Homo sapiens: one gene and its partner. The protein of the gene in region 1 interacts with the protein of each later gene in a biochemical or structural test. Each region holds a gene or a part of one and is shown on either strand. Other genes may lie near its edges.

Region 1 (12,525 bases):
AGTATCTGCTAGGGATTGGTGCCAGGCAATTCCTGGGTACCAAAAGGCATAGATGCTCAAGTCCCTTACATAAATGGCATATTATTTGCATATGACCTATGCACACCCTCCCGTATACTTCAAAACATCTATAGATTACTTATAATACCTAATACAATTTAAACAGTTGTTTTTCTTCCTTTTCCTTTTTTATTTATTTATTTTTTCAAGAGGGAGTCTTGCTCTGTCCCGCAGGCTGGAGTGCAGTGGCATAATCTCAGCTCACTGCCACCTCCGCCTCCCAGGTTCAAGCGATTCTCTGGGCTCAGCCTCCCAAGTAGCTGGGATTACAGGCACCCACCACCACACCTGGCTAATTTTTGTATTTTTAGTAGAGATGGGGTTTCACCATGTTGGCCAGGCTGGTCTCGAACTCCTGACCTCAGGTGATCTGCCCGCCTTGGCCTCCCAAAGTGCTGGGATTATAGGCGTGAGCCACCTCGCCTGGCCAGTGTATTGACTTTTTTAAATTTCAAAATGTATTTATTTTCTTTTATTTTTTATTTTTTAGAGACAAGGTCTTGCTGTGTTGCTCAGACTGGACTCAAACCCCTGGGCTCAAGCAATCCTCCTGACTCAACCTCCTGAATAGCTGGGATTACAGATGCATGCCACTGCACTTGATTTACTGTATTGTTTTATATTTTTTATTTATTTATTTATTTTGAGACAGAGTCTCACTCTGTCGCCCAGGCTGGAGTGCAGTAGTGTGATCTCAGCCCACTGCAACCTCTGCCTTCTGAGTTCAAGCGATTCTCTTGCCTTAGCCTCCCAAGTGGCTGGGACTACAGGCATGCACCACGACGCCCAGCCAATTTTTGTATTTTTAGTAGAGATGGGGCTTCGCCATGTTGGCCACTCTGGTGTCGAACTCCTGACCTCAAGCAATCTACCCACCTCGGCCTCCCAGAGTTCTGGGATTACAGGCGTGAGCCAGCACACTCGGCCTGTACTGTTTTTTAATCTGTATTATTTTTATTATTTATTATTATTTTTATTGTTTTTTTTTCCAAATATTTTCTGTAGTTGGTTGGGTTCGTAGATACGGACTCTCTAAATGAGGAACCCACATATATGGAAGGCTAGCTGTAATCCCTCCTGATTGGATATTCATTTAGCAATTTGTCCTTTTATTTTTATAAAGTAGCCTCTATTCAAATGTCACCAATCTGGCTGGGTGCAGTGGCTCATGCCTGTAATTCCAGCACTTCGGGAGGCCAAGGCAATAGGATTGCTTGAGCTTAGTAGTTTGAAACCAACCTGGGAAATACAGCCAGACCCTCTCTCTATAGAAAATAGAAAAATAAAACAAAATTACCCAGACGTGGTGGCACACACCTGTAGTCCTAGCTACTCAGGAGGCTGAGGGAGGAGGATCGCTTCAGCCCAGAAGTTTGAGGTTACAGTGAGCCAAGATAATGCCATTGCACTCCAACCTAAGTGAGACAGAATGAAACCGTGCCTCAGAAAACTAAGAACAAAAAACAAATGTCACCAATCTGTGAGCCCTTTGATGATCACCCAAGCCCCCTTACTTTCTCCACTTTAAAAAAATCTTATCATCACTAAAATAGTATATATTTATTAGCTTGTGCTTATTCTTTTGTCTTCCCTTTCTACTAGTGAGCTGTATGAGAGCCGATACTTTGTCTTTTTTTGTTGTTCACTGTCATATATCCAGCATCTGGAAGAGTGCCTGGCACATAGAGATGTGGAATAAATGTTGAATGCATGTATAATCCTCCTCCCTACAGGTGTGCTGCCTCCCCCCATTAGATTGCTTTTCTTCCATTCTATATCTAAATTAATGCATCATCATTCATTACAATGCCAAAGAGTCATTCTCCAATTCATCACTCTCTCGCAATCACACAACATCAAATAGATAATTTTTAAAAATCACACTGGTGGCAAAGGATCAAACAAGAACAATGCTTGAAGGTCATTGGAATGCCACAGTGGAAATTCGTATGAGAGAAAGGGCCTAAACAAGAGCAGCATTGACCGTGGTAATACTAAGATGCTATTTGCCATGTTCACTTTGACATTTGCATGGATGGTACAAAAGCAACAGTGGGTAAAACGCTGGTCCCTCAGCATGAATCATGGTAGTGACACCAAACCATACTTGGAGTCTTTGCCTTCATTACATAGATTTCACTGGGGAAAGCCAGTGTCATTTAAGAATGCCCTTCATAAAGGAGTAAAAATTATTAACTGTGATAAATCTGGACCTTTAAATATGTCTTTTGTCTGTGCGATGAAGTAAGAAGAACACATAACGCACTCAGTTGCATACAGAGGGTTTTCTCGAGGAAATAATACCAGCTCAACTAGCCACTTTTTTCACAGAACACCAGAAGGACTAACAGACAAACTATGGTTGTTCAGACTTAGATACGGCAGATCTTTTCTTGAAAATGAACAAAGTGAGTCAATCTCTTCAATGAAAACAACTAATGGTATTTGTTGGCAATAATAAAATTTGAGCTTTCAAGTGAAAATTATAATTTTGGAAAACTTGTTTCTGTCATCATGAGTTTGACAACTTCCCAATTGCCTGATAAATTGATGGTGATATTTTTGTAAATTTTTTTGATATTATATAATAATACATGTCAACATTAGGAAAAGCCGTATAACTCAGTGAACCAGTATTTTCTAAATGACCAATGCATGATGTTACAAAAGCATGACTGGGTAAAAAAGTCCATTCAAGGACAAGATTGGCTGGACGCAGTGGCTCACGCCTGTAATCCTAGCACATTGGGAGGCCGAGGCAGGTGGATCACCTGAGGCCAGGAATTCGAGACCAGCCTGGCCAAAATGGCAAAACTCCGTCTCTACTAAAAATACAAAAATTAGCTGAGTGTGGTGGTGGGTGCCTGTAATCGCAGCTACTCAGGAGGCTGAGGCAGGAGAATTGCTTGAACCCAGGAGGCAGAGGTTGCAATGAGCTGAGATCGCACCATTGCACTCCAGCCTGGGGGAAGGGCGAGACTCTGTCTCAAAAAAAAAAAAAGGACAAGATTGACTACCATTTTAATGTAACAGTGTAAAAAAGTTAACTGATAAAGTTTTAGATTCCAAATTGTTAGCCTTTAAGAAATTACAGTCATCTGAGAAGGTTATTAAAATGCTTCTCTGCACTACGTATGGTGGCTCATGCCTGTAATCGCAGCACTTTGGGGGGCCGAGGTGGGAGGATCCCTGAGCCCAGGAGTTTGAGATCAGTCTGGGCAACATAGCAAGATCCCATGTCTACAAAAAAATTTTTTTTAATTAGCTGGGCATAACGATGCACACCTGTGGTCCTAGCTACTTGGGAGGCTGAGGCAGGAGGATTGCCTGAGCCCAAGAGTTGGAGTAAGCTGGGGTTGTGCCACTGCACTCCAACTGGGCAACGGAGTGACACCCTGTGTCTAAGAAAATAAAAATTAAAAAATAAATAAAATGCTCTTCCTTTCCCAACTACATATTTGTGTGGTGCTGGTTTTTCTTCATATATTCCAACCAAAAGAACATATTGTAACGGGTTGGAGAAACAGATATGATAATCCAGCTCGATCCTGCTAAGCCAAATGTTAAAAAAAAAAGTACAAAAAATGTAAACCAATGCCACTCTTCTCACCAGATTTTTTTGTTTTGGAAAATATAGTTATTATTTTTAAAATGTATTTAAATATAAAAGTTTTATATTGAAATGAATAAAATATTTTAAACATCTTAGGTTTAATTTCTAATATAGTAAACATCAATATGTATTATGCATATAAACAAGAACTTTGGGGGTTCTCAATAATTTTTTTTTTTGTGAGACAGAGTCTTACTCTGTTGCCCAGGCTGGAGTACAGTGGCACCATCTTGGCTCACTGCAACCTCCGCCACCCAGGTTCAAGCGATTCTCCTGCCTCAGCCTCCTAAGTAGCTGGGATTACAGGTGCCCACCACTACGCCCGGCTAAGTTTTGTATTTTTTAGTAGAGATGCGGTTTCTCCATGTTGGCCAGGCTGGTCTCGAACTCCTAACCTCAAGTGATCTGCCCGCCTCGGCCTCCCAAAGTGCTGGGATTACAGGTATGAGCCACCGTGCCTGGCCTCAATAATTTTTAAGAGTAAAGGCGTCCTGACACCAAAACAGTTTGAGAATCACTGGTGGAAATTATTCTTGAATTAAAATGACATTTGTTTAAGAATTCAGTAATTTTGACTTTTCCCTCTCTGAAACTAACCCTAATTAATCTGATTTTGTGAGGTTTTATTGCATTTTTTAAAAATCCAGGGACCACGGTCTAGCCAAATGATTATCAGATCTAAGTATTCATTTTAGTCTATTTTAACACTCAGGATAATAAATTTCAGATAAATAATACTCTAATTTTTTTTTTTCTGAAAAGTTACTGTCAAGGATTGTTTAAGTAATGCAAATGATCCTTTTAAACTACAGTTATACTCCACTGTTCTGACCAGAAACCCAAATACTATTGACTCAGTTTAACATTGTGTGTGCAGAATGCCCTCATAGAAGCTGATGAAACACAATTTGGATTTTTACAACAGTGATTTTCAAAGGGGTAAGCATGAGAGGTGGGAGTGGGGTTCATGTGCCCCCCCTGAGGGAAGCATCAGAATGTGAGGTGGTTGTAACTACAGAAGTTTCTTCTGTTCGCACCAGAGATGTTAATATTTGCTGCCCTTCTATTCACTGTCTTCTCTTACAGACTTCCTGCTGTTGTAAGCAACCACTACAGATTTCTCAGAAGTACTGTGGCAAATAAAAATGATTGAGAATCATTATACATTTTCTATTCTACTAGAGAGACAGTTTAAAATAAAATAGGTAAGTATAATCTGAAGAAAATAACAGGAAATAAATAGGACCAATCAAAGCTTTTAAGGATTTGTGCTTATACTGAGGTTCTATCAGGTTCTCACGCTCTGTTAATTTGAAAGCAAAACCATTACATTTAATTGAATGTTTAATAAAATGAATTATCAGTGGCTTGTTTTATTCGGAATTCCATTATTTCTTTTTCCGAATAATATAGTTTTCCAGATTTAAGTGGTAAAAATCAAAGACTTTGTTGTAAATTTTTTTTTTTTTGGAGACAGAGTCTCACTCTTCTTGCCTAGGCTGGAGTACAGTGGCACGATCTCGGCTTACTACAACTTCCACCTCCTGGGTTCAAGCAATTCTCCTGCCTCAGCCTCCTGGATAGCTGGGATTACAGGCGCCTGCCACCACGCCTGGGCTAATTGTTGTACATTTTTAATAGAGACAGGATTTCACCATGTTGGCCAGGCTGGTCTCAAACTCCTGACCTCAGGTGATCTGCCCGCCTTGGCCTCAAAAAGTGCTGGGATTACAGGCGTGAGCCACTGCACCTGGACATAAATCATTATAATAATTGTATGGAATTATTATGAATCACAGCGTCCTGTGTCTACACCCCTTTGTAATGTGACATTGTCACTCTTCTCATAAAAAATTGGAATTTTCCCACTTCTTGAATCTGGGATGGTCTTATGACTTGCTTTGACCAACAGAATATGATGGAGTGATCTTGTACATTTTGGAGTCTAGGCTTTAGGTCTTTGCTTCCACTCTCATCTTCTTAGAATGCTAAGACCACCATGCAGTGGAAAAGCTCCATCTACCAGAAGATGAGAAGCCATGTGGAGAACTAAGACTTCCCAGCCAATAGCCAGCACCAACTGCCAGACACGTAAGTGAGGCCATCTTGAACCCTCCAACCCTAGATGTATTCACGGTTCTCCAGAGAAACAGAACCAATAAGATGTGTGTGTGTGTGTGTGTGTGTGTTTATAAAGATATTTATTTTAAGGACTTGACTCACTTGATTATAGAGCTTCCAAGTCCAAAATCTGCAGGGTGGGTTGGCAGGCTGGAGGCCAGGGAAAAGGTGATGCTACAGTTCAAGTCTGAGAGCCATCTACTGGCAAAATTCCTTCTTGCTCATGGAAGGTCAGTCTTTTGTTCTATTCAGGCCTTCAGTTGATTGGATAAGGCCTACTCACATTATGGAGGGCAATCTGCGTTATTCAAAGTCCCCTGATTTGTTACTCAGAGGTGAGAAAAATCATGGTGTACTAAAGTCACCACAAAAACTTCTGTAGATCATATGGAGAAGCAGGAGAGATGAAGCTGGAGAGCAAAGCAGCAAATCAGCAATTAAAAAAGATGTTTGGAGTTGTTGAGTTTGGAGATGAAAAGTGACAAGATGAATTCTGGATTTTAGACAAAGCAATCCAACGTGTGGATGGAGAGGGATTTGAGAGGAGAAATCAGCTGTTGTCAGTAAGAGTATTTAAATTAGGATACTGGTAACGGGGATGGAGAGACACACGATTATACATGGGAAGTGAGAGCAGAAAGAATTAGGATTATTTCTTGATTTTTTTTTTTTTTTTTTTTTTTTGCTCAGGCAACTGAATAGATGAAGTCATTAATGGAAACCAGGAACACTGAAGAAACAGTGAACAATTAAAGTACTTTGAGTTATCAAAGTGAGATGTCCTGCAGGTAGCTAGACGATACTGGCTGGTAATTCAGGAGAGCTGCTGCGTCCTGTGTAAAAGGAAAAGCAATTCATGGATGGTGGCTAAAGCCAGCTGGCAGGATTTAGGGGATGGGTTAGACCTGCACTTGTTTTGATGGAGAAGAGGCGGGTATAAAGTGGCAGAGTGAGATTACTGTAAAATATCTGCATTCAAAGGGCTAAAAAAAGAGAAATGCTGGAAAGGCTACTTGCTATAAACGCAGCAGGGTAGGTTAAAACAAATTACGAAGCACGGGCGGTGAGGCGCGGTGCTTAAGATTAAGCCCGGCGTGTTTTCGAGTGCACTGATACACAAAAGGGAAAGGGACCCTCCTCACCGGAAGCACAACCTCTGCCCTCTGGGGCATTACACATTCCTCCGCGCCGGAAGAAAGCGTCACGTCGCGTCGCGCCTCGCCCCGCCTCGTTGCGCCTCGCCCCGCCTCGCCCCGTCGGCTTCCCTCAATCCGTACCTCTAGTAAAGAAGAGCTTGTGCCCCTCCCCGACCCCTTACCAAGGGCGAGCTGCGTGGAGTCGTTGGACTGGGCAGAACTTTGGCGGGCAAGGAGACAAACAGCCACACTGTGCTGCCGGGGAAGAGAAGAAGAAGGAAAGGCCAGACACACAGGCGTCGTGCAGCTGCGGAAGGATTCCGTTTCCTGCAGGGGGCGGAGGGATTTGACAGCACGGTAACTTCCGGAAAAGTCCTGAACCTCAGTGGAAAAGCCTTGCAAGAAACAATAACAAACGGGAGGAGGAAGCGATTCTGGGGTTTCTGTGTTGAACGGTTCTTGTCCGCGAAGATGCGCTTCGGCCTCTGTCAGGGGACTTGAACGGGCTTAGTGGGCTTCAGCCAGCTTTTCTCCACCGGTTCCCCACGGGGACCCCCCCCCCCCCCCGGCCGTTGCAATGGCGGGCGTGGGGCCGGGGGGCTACGCGGCGGAGTTCGTGCCACCGCCAGAGTGCCCCGTCTTTGAGCCGAGTTGGGAGGAGTTCACAGATCCGCTCAGCTTTATCGGCCGCATCCGGCCTTTGGCGGAGAAAACCGGCATCTGCAAAATTCGGCCGCCCAAGGTACCTCAGTCTGTGAAGAGAGAGGGGGAGAAGGAAGAATGGGGGAGTCCGTACACTGGGTTTAGCTTTACTTTTCTGATCCTTGTCTCGTTTCATATGTACTCTCTTTTGAGACAACTGGAGCCTGTTTCTGGATGTTTTTGCCTCGGTTTCTTTTGTGGTCTTATGTAGACACGTCTGAAAGCGAGAAAGTGGTGTCTCTTGGGCCTCTTCCGCCTAGAACTTGGGAACTGATACTTTTCTCTCAGCCGTGGGCCTAAAGCCTTTCGTTAGCCGATATGGTGTTTAAAGTACAGTATTATGACGTGACGTATTCTTCCCTCACGTATCCTCATTATGGTTTGATAGTCGGCTATCTCTTTATTCAAGACCTGGTTGGATCAAATATTTGCAGGCCTCATCTCAGGGCTAGGGTTTCTGAAAAGGTTATCTGAGCTCTAGTCTCACCGGATGGTATTACTAGACAAGAACTCCAGACTAATTATTGCCGCAGTGAAAAAGTCTTAGCGGGGAAAGAGAAGGAGCAGCAATAATTCTAAAATTTAGAGGTTTAGGAAAAATTGGTTTATAGTGGAGGTGGAAGGAAATGTTGAAATCTCTTGACGTAGGGAACTCAAGATCAACGATTTTAGAATCACAGTTATTGCAGATAACTAGGTTTGCCTATAAGGTTAATTATAATCTCACCTTTGAGGTAAGGAAAACAGATACTATCCCTTGTGTGGAGGGGATTAATGCCCCAAGAGGTTGAGTGATTACTCAAGGTCAAAGGTGTTTTTCTTTACTCATTAGACCAGTGCTTTTTAAATGATGTTGCTGGACCACTTGCACCAGGGTCAACTGGATGCTTGTTTAAATGCAGATCTCTAGTCTTGTTGTGGAAGTTCTGGAATCTGCTTTTCTAGCAACTAGTCTCAGATGATTCTCATGTAAGTTGAGGTTTTCGAACCATTGCTTTAGTCGTTGCTTGTTAAAGGCATTTTGCTTTATGTTTTGTCTAGTATTAGTAATGATAAAATATTAAGCACTGTTAACCAGTGTTGCTTTTTAAAAAGCATCTGCCGTCACCACTGACTACCACAGAGATAGGCACCGCAGCGTATTAAAAACTTAAATGACAGCGAGGAGGAACTAATTTAACACCTATAGATTGTTTGCTTTAATCTTTGAAGCCCTGACAGGTAAATAAAGTCCGCCTTTTACAGATGAGGCTAATCTGGATAAGTTAAAACACCAAATGTGTGATCTTGGGCAAGTGGCAAAGTGTATTTTGAACCTAGATCAGTTTTTCTGATTCTGAAACAGACGTAATGCTCTCACTATGTTGAATGACTTTGTTTAAGGTTATAGACTACTCATTTCAAGCAGAGGATTAACAAATAATTGCTATGATGATACGCATTGCCATCCTCCAAAAACTTCCATTTAACCCTTTTTTCTATCATAATTACCTAATATTAACAAATCTTAAGCATTGAAGGTTTTCCTAAGTCATATTTTTATCTACTCTTGAATTTATTAATTAGAAATTCTATTCACGGTTACTTTGATTAAAAAAAGTTTTTTTACTTAAAAAAATGCTGAAATAATGCTTTCTCTTTATGTCACATTATTGAAAATAAATCTTGTTTACAATCAGAATTTAATTTTAGTTTTGGCAGATTTCTTCAGTTTCCAAGGTAAGACTTTTTTTTTTTTTTGACTACTCAACGTTTTAAAATAGGTTTACTGTTATTCTGTTATTTAGGCCAAATCAAACTATGTTATTTAGACCCCACTTGAAATATGCTATCTAATTTTAGTTATATCACAGTCTGGAAATTGTCCTTGTTCTGCGTGTTTTTTGAATATTTGGGTTCCCAGAAGCTGGGCTTTGAACAAAACATTTGTGTAACATAAAGTGCTCTGTCACATTACACATAACATAAAAAAAATCGTTTAAATAAATAAGTTCTTAAAAGTTTCTTTTTAATCTTAAATTTTACCCTTTTTAGTTTAAACACAAGTTTTTTTTTTTTGATCTTGGTAAACCTGAATGTTTACTAGATACTGTTTTGTGGTACATGACCTCATTGAATTCCACTTGAGTAACTTGGGAAAGCATAATTGTGGGAGGTAAACGGTGGGACTGGTTTGAAGAGGATTGCTTCTCTGAGCAATACAGGTTGAGCATCCATCCCTACTTTAAAAATTCCAAATCCGAAATCATCCAAAATCTGAATTATTCTTTTTCTTTTTCTTTTATAGAGATAGGGTCTCGCTCTGTTGCCTGGGCTGGTCTTAAGCTCCTGGGCTCAAGCGATCCTCCTGCCTCAGTCTCCCAATGTGCTGGGATTACAGGTATGAGCTACTGCACCCAGCTTGAACAGATTATTTTTTTCATTGTATTAATGGTATGGTATATTTTTTCTGTTAACTACTTAAGTGGAAATAAGTGTAAGGAAATGATTGTTTATTGGTAGCATGTAAATTCACAGTCAGGAATGATGGTGATGCCAGACAACCACAAATTGTCCACACTGGTGGCTGAGCTACTGACACCTTTCTTTTCTGACGGTCCAGTATACACAAGCGTTATGCACCAGATTATTAAAAATATTGCATAAAATTACCTTAGCCTATGTATAACTTTATATGAAACAAAAGAATTTTGTATTTAGGCTTGGTTCTTTCTCCAAGATATCTCATTATGTATATGCAGATATTCCAAAATATGGAAAAATCTGAAATCCAAAACACTTCTGGTTCCAAGCATTTCAGATGAGGGATACTCAACCTGTATTAAAATTATTTTATCGAAAAGAATTGCTCATTCTGTCTCTATAATAAAGAAGACTTGTAAGTTAGTCTATTAGCACCATGATTTGTGGCAAAACCCCCCTTTAAGGGAATAATTAATGCATTCCTTGTTTACATACCACTGTGTTTTTTTAAAAAAATCTTTCTATTTAGGACTGGCAGCCTCCATTTGCCTGTGAAGTAAAAAGCTTTCGTTTCACTCCAAGAGTCCAGCGCCTGAATGAACTTGAGGTAAGTGTTTTGTCACTATTTCTGCTTCCTGATTCATTCTTTATATTAGGGCTGTAGGTAGAGAACTTTGAGAAGCTCATGTACCACAGCCTAGAGTTTGTGTTAATTGGTATTGAATGGAATAGTTACTTGATGTTTGGAGGAAGAGTATGATTTTTTAAAAACTGTGCAAAGTTGTTATGGTTTTTCCATTTAACTGAGAAATGTTCAATGCTTAGCTTCAGAGACTTAGAATTCTTAAATTCTACTTTCTCTAGTGTTTCTTACTCTACTAAAATTTTTGTTAATCTTGGAAGATTTCTTTCTCCCTCGGTTCTTGGAAAATGGATTTTTAAATCCTATTTTAAAACCCTAGTTTTCAGAGTTTGTTTTGTTTTGGTTTGGTTTTGGTTTTGGTTTTAATGGAACTTTGCCAGGAGTGTTAATCTGATTTATTAAGATTTTAAGTATTACTTTTTAATTACTTTAAGTATTATTTTTTAATTACTTTAAGTATTACTAATTTATCTTAAATTTTCTAAATGGAAGTGTACGTTTTGCTGTTTTTTCTGTTTATGGGTTTTCAGAAGGTTCTTCATTGTGATATGAAAACTTTTAGAGTACAGAAGGAAAATTATTGATAGCAAAGGTTTATTATGTCATTCTGAAGTTTTTTTTCTTTTCTCCCCAAAACATTTCTGAGAGTTTAATACATACTTTTTTTTTTTTTTTTTTTCCAGAGAGTCTTGCTCTGTCACCCAGGCTGGAGTGCAGTGGTGCGATCTCGGCTCACTGCAACCTCTACCTCCCGGGTTCAAGCGATTCTCCTGCCTTAGCCTCCCTAGTGGCTGGGATTACAGCGACCATGCCCAGCTAATTTTTGTATTTTTAGTAGAGACGGAGTTTTGCCGTGTTGGCCAGGCTGGTCTGGAACTCCTGACCTCAGGTGATCTGCCCGCCTTGGCCTCCCAAAGTGCTGGGATTACAGGCGTGAGCTACCGCGCCTGGCCGCAATGCATATTTTTTCTTTTTAGTCTCTTGTAATTAGATACTTGACAAAGCATATTAGTATCAGTGAGGTATAGAGTTGATGCACCTAAAGTGTGCATGTTACATATGGATGAAATGACAGAACGTTAGAGACTGAAGAGAATCCGATCTACTGAATTTTCTGATCAGCATAGAGTTAAACCAACTTACAAAAATTGTTTTGGTTGCTAATATGACAACTTTTTACATAAATCAGAGTAACTTTTTTGCCTGAATAAATATAGTTTATTAGAAGTCTTTTGCCTCTTTATTATTGGCTAGTTTTACTATTGGCTAGTTTTACAGGGTTGAAATAAGCAATAATGAAAAAAAGTCTTTGAATTTCTTTAGAGAAATGAGTACCTCTATTACAGCTGTCCCAAACCTTTTTGGCACCAAGGACTGGTTTCATGGAAGACAGTTTATCCATGGATGGATGGGGGTATGGAGGATGGTTTTGGGATGAAACTGTTCCACCTCAGATCATCAAGCATTACTTAGATTCTCAAAAGGTGCTCACAACCTAAATCCCTCACACGCAGTTCACAATAGGGTTTGTGGTAATGCTTGCCCGGTTGGTTGCCCACTGCCGCTGCTCACCTCCTGCTGTGTGGCTGGGTTCCTAACAGGCCGCTGATGGGTACTGGTCCACATCCTGGGGTTTGGGGACCCCTGCTCTGTTATTCTTATTCATTTCAATCATAACTTAGTTCTTCTGTATTTTAATAATCTTAGGCAATGACCAGAGTGAGATTGGATTTCTTGGATCAACTAGCAAAATTTTGGGAACTTCAAGGATCTACTCTGAAGATCCC
Region 2 (12,664 bases), on another chromosome or scaffold:
ACCCTTCTGTCCCATCATTGGGGTTGAAATGAGGACAGCACCGAAGAGTGCAGTTTCTGGTCGATGAATACTGCTTCTAAGATCTTTGTGGAAGATATTAATCAAATGCAGTTAAAAAGTATACGTATAATATGTATATTATATATATATATACACACACACACGTAATAGCCTGTAGTGAGATTATTTTAAAGACACTTCCTAGTGTTAAAGAACCCTTGAAGTGTTTCGAGTTCTTATTGTTTTGGTAATGCTAAAAGCTTGGGGTTGTGTGAATGGGGGTGGGGGGTGTGGTGTGATGTATTCTAATGACTTGAGTTATTCTGGGTGCTAGGAATAAGAGTTATTATATTTACCAGGATTACTATGCTGAAGGTATTCTTCAAGAGTTTGTTTTTTTTCTACTGGTTGATCTCTACTTTTAGAAGGTATGTTACCCATAAAATCATTTGGAGTGTCATTTCATTTACAAACTGAAGTTCTACAATAGTGAAGTGTTGTTGATAGGGGACATACGAGATCTACTCTAACGAGTATTGGAGCATTGGAAAATACTTTTTTTTCTGGCTGTGATTAGAATTAGTAGTTTGAGTTTTAATTAATGGAAAACCATGTTTTCATGATTGATACATAAGTTTTTTTGTGAAAATCTGCAGTCTGGGTCGCTTGAGTGGGTTTTACCAATAATCTTATGTCTCCCTTACTTGTTCTTGTACATAATCATTGTTTTGAAGGTAAAATCTTGAGCTCACTGGTTCTCTGACTGGGAGCAAAGTGTAAATACTGTGTAGTAATGGAAGGTATTTTGCTCTGACTTGTACCTGTAAGAATGATTACACAGACATGATAAAAGCGCTTTTACCATTTGAGTTGCGTTTTTCTTTCTAAATCGTGTAATACTTTTACTTACATGATTGGTGAAATAAAACTGCTTTTAATTAAATTATAACAGCAGCATATTTCGAAATCTGGATGCGTTGTGGCTGGAGAACTTTCATTCTGAGTATTAACTGTTAAAGCTTTAAATTTTATTATCCATGCATATTGCTGATGGATCTGTGAGTATATTTTCAGAAAACAGGAGACTTGCAATATTTTCAAATCTGTACTAATACACACTTGTAGGCATTAGATTTTAAGCAGTTAGGTTTGTTAAAAAGTTATCTGTTGTCCTATACCAACAGATTTCTATCAATGTTTTTTTTAAGTGGGTAAGATCAAAATTGGTTTGGTTGACAGGCCATTCTTGCCAGATGTAATTCATTAAATAACCTTTGGCACCCTTGATGGGTAAGGCATTAGGAAAAAATTGTTTCGTTTGAAAGTTATTATACATCTCATTCTTCTGTTCATTTTTAGAAATAAGACCCAGGACTTGGCTTTAAAGCATTATTTTGCATTTTGCTTCCTCCTAATACTAAATTTCATGTTATCTCAACTAGGGGCAGTATTTTCTCATGGATTGACTAAAAGTTGTTATTTTTGGCATCTGGCTTTGTGATTATTTCCAAGTTACTCTACTTCCCCTGGGCCAGTTTCCTAACTATGTAGTAAAATGGGAATTATAATAACTTGCCACATCTGCACAGGATTGCTGTGCCTTAAGATTCGCAGAGAGCATCCTTGGATGAAAACTGTGGGGAAGGTCTAGGAATTGTTACTGAAATAAGCTAATGTGAAGTAGGTCATATTTTATAGGAAGTCAAATAGGAGGTTTTTAAGTTCTTGGCAAGACACAGTAGCGATAGTGGGATTTTTTAAAATCCCAAATATGTATTATAATATGGGTAATAAAACAGATACCTTTATTCCTGCCCCCCATAAACTTATAGGGAAAGGGACAAATAAAACAAATTACAGGGTGATGTGTCGTGTGTGAGTGTGTGTGTGTGTGTGTGTGTGTGGTGTAAGAGATTGAAGTTCTGTCAAACTCAAATGTAATAACATTATAAAATTATGGGATGCCTTTCCTCTTTTGTTTTCTGCATGTAGCAATATTCTATTTATTTATTTTATTTTATTTTTTGAGACAGGGTCTCACTCTGTGGCCAGGCTGGAGTTCAGTGGCACAATCTTAGCTCACTGCAACCTCCACCTCCTGGGTTCAAGCGATCCTCGTGCCTTAGCCTCCTGAGTAGCTGGGATTACCAGCGTACACCATCATACCTGGCTAATTTTGTATTTTTAGTAGACATGGGGTTTCGCCATGTTGGCCAGGCTGATCTCAAACTCCTGACCTCAAGGGATCTGCCCACCTTGGCCTCCCAAAGTACTGGGATTACAGGGGTGAGCCACCATGCCTGGCCTGCATGTAGTAATATTTAACAAATGGTAGTACAACATGCTTTCACTGGACTCTAAGCCAAGTCTGTTAATAGCAGTGATTAATTTTAAATATGCCTTATATTTTTTAGTGCTTTGTTATTTGCTCTTAAGAATAAATTCTAATAACCATGACTATAATTTCAGATTTGACTCTTGGCCTTAGAAAAGTGTTTTGCATTTGAGGAGCACTCTGTAGATACGTATTGACTGAATGAAACCTGTTGCTTCTCTGTTCTTGGTAGATGATACCATATTCCGTTTGGTTCCCAAAGCCACGATTCCTAATTCCTCTCTCACCAGCCTTTACATTTAATTACTGAGAACTGATCATTTTTCCTTCTAAAAAATCTCTTGAATTTGTTTCCCTTATCCTCACTGCCGAAGTTCATGCTGTCATTTCTCACCTGGTTTACTATGACGTACTGACAGCCTCTTTCTGCTTCTAGAGTCACCACCTTTATCCAGCTTCTACATGTAGCAGAGCAGTCTTTCTAAAGAGCAAATCTGATCACTGCTTAATCTAAAAACCTTTCAATGGCTCCCCCTAGCAGCGTTCATTAAGAGAGGCAACAGAGTGGAGGGTTATGAGCTCACATTTAGTGTTTAATCTGAACTGGGTTCCAATTCTGTCTCTGGCACTTAAAACCCCTGCCAGTTAAAACCCCTGTAACATTGACAAGTTAATCTCTTTATCAATTGCAAGATAATTATTCCTAACTCAGAAAGTTGTTGTGAAGATTAAATGAGATAATGTATGAAAGCATTTAGCAGAATTCCTGGCATGTAGCAAGTGCTCAAAAGATGTTAGCTACTGTGGCGCATAGGATCCTCCATAACTATTTCATCTGTCTCTTCTCCAGCTGAGTTGTTTGCCATTTTCTCTCCATAATCAGTGCTTCAGTCATATTAAAGTATTTTGACATCTCTGCATGAGCCCAGCAGTTTAATGCGTTCTTGTGTATGAAAAGTAATGATCCTTAGTAGGTTATTTCTCAAGACTAAGGGAATATTCTAACCAGATCTACCAGACTACAGTTGGTGCCTGGCTGTATAAATACTGTATATTTAATACAGTATTAAATGCTGTATATAATTCTCTTGGAAGCATGATACTAAGTTGTAATTATCACACCCAAATATTGTCACTTGGTGGCAGGTATCATTTATATTCTTATACTTAGAAGATTGTCTATCACATGATAGAGACTCAGCAAAAAGAATTTTTGAACATAGGACTCAGTGCTTTGAAATCTTGGTGCAACATGGTTCATGTGGCACAATTTTAAAATTGTGTGTGTGCTTGTGTGTATACAGTATATGTGTGTCTAATTCATATATATGTATAATTTATATATAGGTATTTGACTTTGGTTCTGTAAGGAGTAATTGCTGAAGTACCCAGAGGAATTGATATTTTCAGCCACAAGCAATCTCATAGCCCCTGAGAACATTATAGTAAGGCTCTTAGGCAAAAGTTTTTTTTTTTGATTATTAGAAAATACTACATTATATTTGTATAAAACTGACAAGTTTAAATTTCACTTTTGTTTTTTATATGATTGGCTGTCAGTGTTTATCAAAAGATTCCATTATTTTTAACTGTTTTCAGTACTAGATGGCTAGGGATGTATGTTAGATTAAACCGTAGAACACTGTAGACTGCTTTTTGGGGAATCCATGCCATAGAACCAAATAATAAGTTGATAATTTACATGGAGACTCAGGTCTCATGGACATATTACTGACAGATAATTTCTTTAAGCTTCAGGTTCTACCTCTATAAAATAGGGGATGATAATTATATTTTATCTGTCAGGCACATTGTGACTGTCAAATAAGGTAAATTTTGTGAAATAAGGTCAAATGAAACAGTGTATGTGTAAGTGACTTGTAAACAGTAAAGCGTTCTATACAAATATTTTAATTACTATAAGAATCAGTTTCCTCTGGTAACCTTTCATCTTGAGCAGGGCTCAAGATGGACTTTTTATACTGCAAGCTGTGGTTTTGTGGGTCATGTTTTAGGAAGGCAGCAATGTATTTGGTGCAGAGGACCGCAACCCTTGAAATATGTGCTTTGGCATTTTAAGCAGACATATTTGTTAAATTACTGCTTGACCACGAATGTTGTCATTGAGTCACCCCCAGCTTTTTGGGGTCTATTTCTTACTGCTCTCTTCTCTGCTTGGGCAGCTGTAACAATGTAGGAATGTTGAATGTCTAGCTGCTACTATCTCTCAGACTCTTATCCTGCCCACAGTTCTGTATGCCTCTTAGGCCTGGCACAACATCATGGTGTTGCTTATGCCTCATTAGACCTGCTGCTTAAGGGAATTAAATGATACCCTAATGGTCTAAAAAGGGTAATGTATTTCCGAACATGTCATATTTACTGTAGGAGGTTGGGGAAGGCGTCACAGGCACTGTAAGTGGTAGTAATTACCTATCCGTATAGATATTTGTGTAATTTTGTTGTGTTGAGACAATGCATAATGGTAAGTTTGAGAGCTTTTCAGTCATATTGGTGAAGTTTACGGCAATCTTGGGAATATTTATACTATTTTAAGTTTACAAAAAATAAAATATAGAAAACACATTTTTTTAATGCATTCTGAGTTGCAAAAGCCTTGCAATGAAAACTGCATCTATTTGATGTGAAGCAGAATACACTAGAGAATCAAGTTGACCCTGGAGGTTTTTTTTTTTTTTTTTTTTTTTTGTATTCAGTAGTCTTAGCCTAAGAGCTAATGATTATCTGTGCATTGTTAATGAGATGATAATCAGAGTTGTAAGTGATAAGAGTAGTTTCTCATAAAAAGTTTACATAACAGGAGAAAAAATATTTAATGTTGGGCGCAGTAGTAGCTCAGGCCTGTAATCCCAGCACTTTGGGAGGCTGAGGTAGGAGGATGGCCTGAGCCCAGGAGTTTGAGGCTGCAACGAATGGTGATCATGCCACTGTACTCCAGCCTGGGTGACAGAGAAAGACCCTGTCTCAAAAAAAAAGTTTTTCACTCTATAAAACTTTTTTATAAGTATGATATTGTGTTATAGAAGTACAGTATTGCTTTATGAAATATAAATGTAATATTGTAGTTTTTTTAAAATAATGTGAACAGTCTATTATGGACATAGCTTAATTTCCTCCAGTACAAACTAGCTTTAGACTGGTTTGCATAAATAGAACAAAGGTATATGTTCCCTTTTGGAAAACTGCAGATCTGCAAAGATTGTGCCTGATTTTGCCAGCATGTTTTTTCACATCTTTTTTTTTTTTTAATTTGATAACATTTTTCATGCAAAAAATTACCTAGATCTGTACAAAGCTCCTAATCCATACACCATTTGGAGTAAGCAGAAACACTGGGGTCCTAAGACATGTAGGAGGGGTGTTAAGGAAAATGTTAATAGTATAACCATGCTTTAGTGGCTCTCCTTTTAGTATTGTTTTAATAACAATATATTTATTAAATAAGCAGTTGAACACTTATTAGGTATAAGACACTCTTTGTGCTGGTCCTATAAAGATGGCTAAGAAATGGTTTGGTGAAGCTCATGACTTGGTAGAGTGTACACAGGTAATTATTGTGTAAGGGAGATTATGGTAAGTGCTGTAACCGATATTTAGTGTTGGTGGGAACACAGATGTAAATGATTATCTTCATTTGGAGTTCATAGAAAAGGTGAGAGTTGATAGGGAGTGATGGGAAATTAAGCTGGAAAAGTAATTGGGAGCCTCTTGGAAGACCTTGAGTGCTAACCTGATTATTTGGTTTTTTGGCTGGTTGGTGTTTTTTAGAGACAGTCTCATTGCTCTGTTGCTCAGCCTGGAATACAGTGGCAAAGTCGTACTTCACTGCAGCCTCAACCTCCTGGGCTCAAGGGATCCTCCTGCCTCACCCTCCCCAGTTGCTAGGACTATAGGTGTGTGCCACCAAACCCAGGTGTGCGCCAGCAACCCCAGCTAATTTAAAACATTTTTTTTGTACAGACAGCCTTGCTATGTTTTCCAGGCTGGTCCAGAGCTCCCGGGCTCAAGTGATCCTTCTGCCTTGGTCTCCCAATGTGGTGTGATTATGGATGGCCTAAGGTGATTATTTGAATATTAATCAGGGATACAGAGGACAAGGGTAAGGTATTGAGGTTTTTGTTTGTTTGTTTGTTTTGACGGAGTTTTGCTCTGTTGCCCAGGCTGGAGTGCAATGGTGCGATCTTGGCTCACCGCAACATATGCCTCCCGGGTTCAAATGATTCTCCTGCTTCAGCCTCCCGAGTAGTTGGGGTTACAGGCATGCGCCACCACTTTCAGCTAATTTTGTATTTTCAGTAGAGACGGGGTTTCTCCATGTTGGTGAGACTGGTCTCGAACTCCTGACCTCAGGTGATCCACCCGCCTCAGACTCCCAAAGTGCTAGGATTACAGGCATGAGCCACCGTTCCTGGCGGCATTGAGGGTTTTAAGATGAGGTAGGGCTGGATGTAAACAGTGTAAAATAGATTGGAATTGGTGGACACCATAAGAGAAATATAATCAAAATCTGATTTTGGTGGTGGGCCTAGGAATGAATAGGCCAAGAAGCTCTTTTTGAGGCAGGGTGATGTAGGGAACTTGGGAATAATTGTACTGTAAGTCACTAAAATAAGTTTGTGGCTATGAGCATTTCACTTAAGCTAGGTCTTTTCCTTTGTCTAAAAAATGGAAGAAAATAATACCTCATGGTATTGATGTGAGGATTAATAAGAGATAGAAAATGCCTACTGGGCCGGCTGGGCGCGGTGGCTCACGCTTGTAATCCCAGCACTTTGGGAGGCCGAGGCGGGCGGATCACGAGGTCAGGAAATCGAGACCATCCTGGCTAACACGGTGAAACCCTGTCTCTACTAAAAATACAAAAAATTAGCTGGGCGTGTTGGCAGGCGCCTGTAGTCACAGCTACTTGGGAGGCTGAGGCAGGAGAATGGCATGAACCCGGGAGGCGGAGCGTGCAGTGAGCCGAGATCACGCCACTGCACTCCAGCCTGGGCGACAGAGTGAGACTCTGTCTCCAAAAAAAAAAAAAGAAAATGCCTAGCTTGGTTCTGGTAATAGTAGGTGCTCAATAAATAGGTTCTCCTTACCCCTTTTCTGAAGTGTGGAATTTAAAGGGTAAGATGGGAGTGGGGTACACCCCCTTCAGAAGGGAGGGTAGGAAAAAACCTGAAATTAAAACCTGGTGATAAAATAATCAGAAAAGGGAAAGTTCTGAGTAAGGTGAACAGATACAAGAGAACCTTTTTAACAAAGTGTTGTGCTTATTGTAGGTCTTTAATAAATGCTGGATGCTTATTTTTGCATACTTCTGTTACACTTAACATTGTTCTGCAATTATATAAATTTATCTGTAATTGATTGTTTAATCTGTCAGTGAGCTTCATAAGAAAAGGAGCAATTATTTTACTTACCTTGCACAATTGTGGAGCACCTACCATCTGCCAGAATGTTATTTGCTGGATGAATATGGCTTGAGCAGATTTGGTAATATATAACACTTGCCACTAGGTGGCTCTTGGTCTTGATAAAGCTGACATTCAGCATAGATAGGTTTTTCTACCTAGAAACCCACGTAGAAACTGACCCCCGGATTATATTCACTTTTTTGCCTTTTCTGTACCTATATTTTTTGAAGTGGAATATGAAACACATATCATATAGAAAACTCATTTAGACTGTTGAAAATTAGAAAAGTGTAATGCCTTTAGAATATGTCCTGTAGAAAGAAGCAGAATGGAAGCTCAATGAAATTCACAAGTGAACAAAGCACATTTCCCCATCTCTCAATGTGCTTAAAGTGAGGCATGATGGTTTGATTTTAGGCATTGTTTTTTGTTGTTATGACTGCGTAAATTGCTTTAAAGGAAGATATTGTGAGGATTTGTTTCTCAGAGGATTTGATGAACGATGATGAAGCGTGGTGTGTACTGATGCTAGGCTATGATTCTGTGTGCTCTTATTTGTATTGTACTCTTCCTATTGAGAAGTAACATACCATCTAATGGTAACTTACATAACATAGAAAGGTAACTACATCCTGTGTGACACGTGTGATATATATTATTAAATCCATTAGATTCAGGAAATTTTAGAGCCAGAGAAGACCTTACTAATCATATATTCTAAAAGTACCCATTCATTTACACAGACAGGTTAGATAATGGCTGAGACACATTCAGTGACTGAGCTAGTTCCTGGTTTGTTTTAGGGGGAGGGGAAGGCCTGTGTTAGTCTTTTGTTTTTGAAACAGGGTTTGCTGTCACGTAGGCTAGAATGCAGTGGTGCTGTCATGGCTCACTGCAGCCTCAATCTCCCGAGCTCGTAATCATCCCACTTGAGCTTCCTGAGTAGTTGGGACTAGGTGCACGCCACCATGCCTAGCTGGGTTTTGTAGAGACGGAGTTTTCCATGTTGCCCAGGCTGATCTTAAACTTCTGGGCTTAAGGGATCTGCCGGCCTCAGCCTTCCAAAGTGCTGGGATTACAAGTGTGAACCCCTGTACCCAACGTTATGTTTTTTTTTTTCCCATACCTTTCTATTTATCTCACTCAGCTGCCTTTTAATGTTACATGCATTTTTAAAAAATAGCCCTTTTTCTCATATGTGCAGACTTAGAGCAAGACTGTAAATCCCTCAGCACCCAAGCCTTGATGGGTAGAGTGCGGCGGCCAGTGTTGCTTCATTAAATGGTCAGCTCGGAGCCTGCCTGCTCTTTCCTCGTTTGCTGTGTTCCTGTTTTTGGTGCTGCTTATGATCTTTGTCTTGTATTTCTAACTGACCAGGTGGCCTCTTCAGGAACATAGTTGTCCTCCTCACTGCACACCTCCTTATCCACTCTGCTTCAGTTGCTCCTACTCGAGAACTGGCTGGACGCAGTTACCTCTGGCTTACTCCAGTCTCTGCCTCTTTTCTCTCTAGCTTCTTGGTTATGCCACCTGCAATAAATTGCAGCTGGCTGTTTCCACAGCCTCTGGAAGGGAAGATGGAAGGACAGAGGAGAGTGAAAAGAAAGAAGGCTGTCATACAGAGAAGAGAGGCTACAACTTGAAATTTTATACTGAAAGATGATCTGGTTTATGAACATGATGATGATGTGTGTAGTGAATTTTTTCTAGTGTATATGCCAAGGCAATATTATTCTCTTGACTATGGGATTCATTAAGTCTGTTGTATCTGTCATCCATGCTTATCCACATGTCAAGGAAGTGAATTAATTTCAGCATTCCCAAGATAGAAGTGATAGTATATGGTAATTTACTTACAGCTTATAATAATGAGTGTCATTATTTGATTAAATGGATATTACTAATTAATGGGAGTTGCCATGTCACTATTGTAATGTTAAAAAAAAAAAGACCTTTCAGAGGTTATTTCATAATTATTGGTAAGTAAGCCATTCTTTGTCCTGGCCTTCCTCCCATGTATTCAATGTGATATGTACACTTTGCACACAGGATTTACTGACATGTCATTTACTTAAACAGCAGTTTCTTAGGTACCCTAAGTCCTGGAAATTGTCAGTTGCTTAAATAATTAAATACAAATAAATCAGCTGTCCACCTAAGCTACCATATACATTTTTGTTTAAATTCTAATGTAATTTAAAAGGCATTTATTTAATTTTTAGCTTGTTTTCATAGTTATTTCAGGGAAATGACCATCTTGATATGGAAATTTTTCTTAGAAATTAATTGATTTCACATCTGTATAAAATAATCATCTTGATTATTTTTCTTGTTGGAAAAGTAATGTTTGTTATAAGAAATTCAGAAGTTATTTATTTACTTCTTGAGACAGGGTCTCGCTTTGCTACCCAGACTGGAGTGCAGTGGTGCCATCATATCCCACTGAAGCCTGAAACTCCTGGACTCAATCCTTCCATGTCAGCCTCCCAGGTAGCTAGGGCTACAGACACTCGCCACCAGTCTTGGCTAATTTTTGTATTTTTTGTAGAGACGGAGTCTCTCACTGTGATGCCCAGGCTGGTTTCAAACTGCTGGTCTCTGGTGATCCTCCCACTTTGGCCTCCCAAAGCACTGGGATTACCAGCATGAGCCACCATGCCTGGCCTCAAAAGTTACTTAAGTATATTGTGTAAAGTGAGCCACTATAGTCTTATACCAGGAAATAATCACTGTTAACAATTGGGAGTACCTTTGACCCTTGAACAACACAGATTTGAACTGAGTGGGTCCACTTATATGTGGATTTTTTTCCTCCAAACTTGGATGGAAAATACAGTATTCATGGGATGCAAGAATAGTGTATATGGAGAGCTGACTGCCGGTCTTGAGTATGTGTGGATTTTGATGTATGGGAGGATCCTGCAAGCAATCCCCTGCGGATACCAAGGAACAACGATATATTTCTTAATTTAAAGAAATGGAAACGCTGACATTCGATTCTATTTTAAAAATTTCAGTAGTTTTGCAAACATAATATTAAAGGTGCCAGGGAGCTAACACTTTGTTGAATATCTACTCAGTCCTCAACTACAATGTGAGGGAAGTGGTATCTCTATCTATTAGATTACTTTAAATGAATTTCCAGGAAATAAACTTATTTTTAAAGTTACACTTGATTAGACTAGTCTTTGGGCTCAAAGTTTCTCTGAAGTAGCGTAATGTATCTTTAGGTAAAAATTTTGTATTTCATTTTTAAAAAGTTTTTTAAATTAAAAAAAATTTTTTTTTTGAGATGGACGTCTCACTCTGTTACCCAGGCAGACTTGGAAATTTTGGGCTCAAGCATTCTTCCTGCCTCATCCTCCTGAGTACCTGAGATTACAGGCATGCATCATTGTGCCTGGCTTAATTTTATTTATTTCTTGGGATAGGATCTTACTGTGTCACCCAGGCTGGAATACAGTGGCAAAATCACAGCTCACTGTAGCCTCGACCTCCCAGGCTCAAGTGATCCTCCTGCCTCAGCCTGCCAAGTAGCTGGGACTACAGGCTTGCACTACCATGCCTGCCTAATTTTTATTTTTATTGTAGAGACAGGGTCTCCAACACCTGGGCTCAAGCGATCCTTCTGCCTTGGCCTCCCAAAGTGCTGGAATTATAGTTGTGAGCCACTGTACATGGCTCGGACATAATTTTTAAAATAATTTTGTCAGGGCATCCCTGGGATGTTGTTCTATCAGTTAATCCAACTTTTCTGCCTTTTCTTTTTTTTTTTTTGATGGAGTCTCGCTCCGTCGCCCAGGCTGGAGCGCAGTGATGCTATCCTGGCTCACTGCAACCTCTGCCTCCCAGGTTCAAGCAGTTCTTCTGCCTCAGCCTCCCGAGTAGCTGGGATTATAGGCGCCCACCACAATGCCCAGCTAATTTTTGTATTTTTAGTAGAGGTGGAGTTTCACCACGTTGGCCAGGTTGGTTTCGAACTCCTGACCTCAAGTTGATCTGCCTGCCTTGGCCTTCCAAGGTGCTGGGATTACAGGAATGAGTCACCATGCCTGGCCCAACTTTTCTGCTTTGTATTTTCTTTTTTTTTTTCTAATATTCCTTTTTTGCCTACAGACCAATTTTTAGGTTTTTAAATTCTGTATACATCCTGTGTGGCCTTGGGCAAGTTACTTAATTGCATTGCAACTTAAGTTTTCCCTTTTGTACAAAGGAGAGCATACATGAGAATTCTTCTGAGGATCAAACGTGTGTATGCAAAGGGGCTGCAAGACTAGGCCTGGTCTATAAGGATTGCTTAACGTCCGTTTCCTTTCTTAACTCAAGCTACTGCCATGCCTTTTATTCATCTCTTGACTTGGTCTTGTTTTTATTTTCCCTTATGCTTACATATTAAAACCTGATTTTCACCCCAGGCCATCAGTAAATAACCTCCTTTTACCAGACCCCCAAACCTCATTTCAGTCATCAGCCTATTTCATTTTTCTGCATCTTGTGTTTTGTTTTGTTATGTTATGTCTTTATTCTTGACTAACAAGCTACTATCTCCACTTCTTGATTATTCCATCTTCTCTTTGCTACTTCTCTTCCAATCTTAAGTATTGTGATTTGCAGTTTTTGTCTTCCTCTTGCTGTATTCTTTGACTTTATGTCTGTGTCATTAGTGTGGATGTTTAGATTCGCATTTTAAAAATTCCTACTGGTTGTTCTGCAGGCTCATTAAACTTGCCTTTTCCAAAACAACTTGTTCTTTTTACCACCTGTATCTGTGATACCATCCTATAAAATAGACTTGATATCTGTTATAGTGCTGTTGTCCATCTGGCTGCCACAGGTAAACGTTAACTTCAGTAACTTCCTTATTTCCTCCCACTATCAGTTTTTCTTATTTTCTTATTATTAT

What was found.
Region 2: the proteins of KDM5A (region 1) and RBPJ form a complex in vitro, tested with the Homo sapiens proteins (one study listed by BioGRID).

The regions. Positions count from the first base shown.
Region 1 is NC_000012.12:384,074-396,598, reverse strand, and holds the start of KDM5A (lysine-specific demethylase 5A), read left to right. Parts: upstream 1-7,278; 5' UTR 7,279-7,507; coding exon 7,508-7,672; intron 7,673-10,624; coding exon 10,625-10,702; intron 10,703-12,445; coding exon 12,446-12,525. UniProt on the Homo sapiens protein: Histone demethylase that specifically demethylates 'Lys-4' of histone H3, thereby playing a central role in histone code. Does not demethylate histone H3 'Lys-9', H3 'Lys-27', H3 'Lys-36', H3 'Lys-79' or H4 'Lys-20'.
Region 2 is NC_000004.12:26,322,523-26,335,186, forward strand, and holds part of RBPJ (recombining binding protein suppressor of hairless), read left to right. Parts: exon of another isoform or gene 1-366; coding exon of another isoform or gene 367-428; intron 429-12,664. UniProt on the Homo sapiens protein: Transcriptional regulator that plays a central role in Notch signaling, a signaling pathway involved in cell-cell communication that regulates a broad spectrum of cell-fate determinations.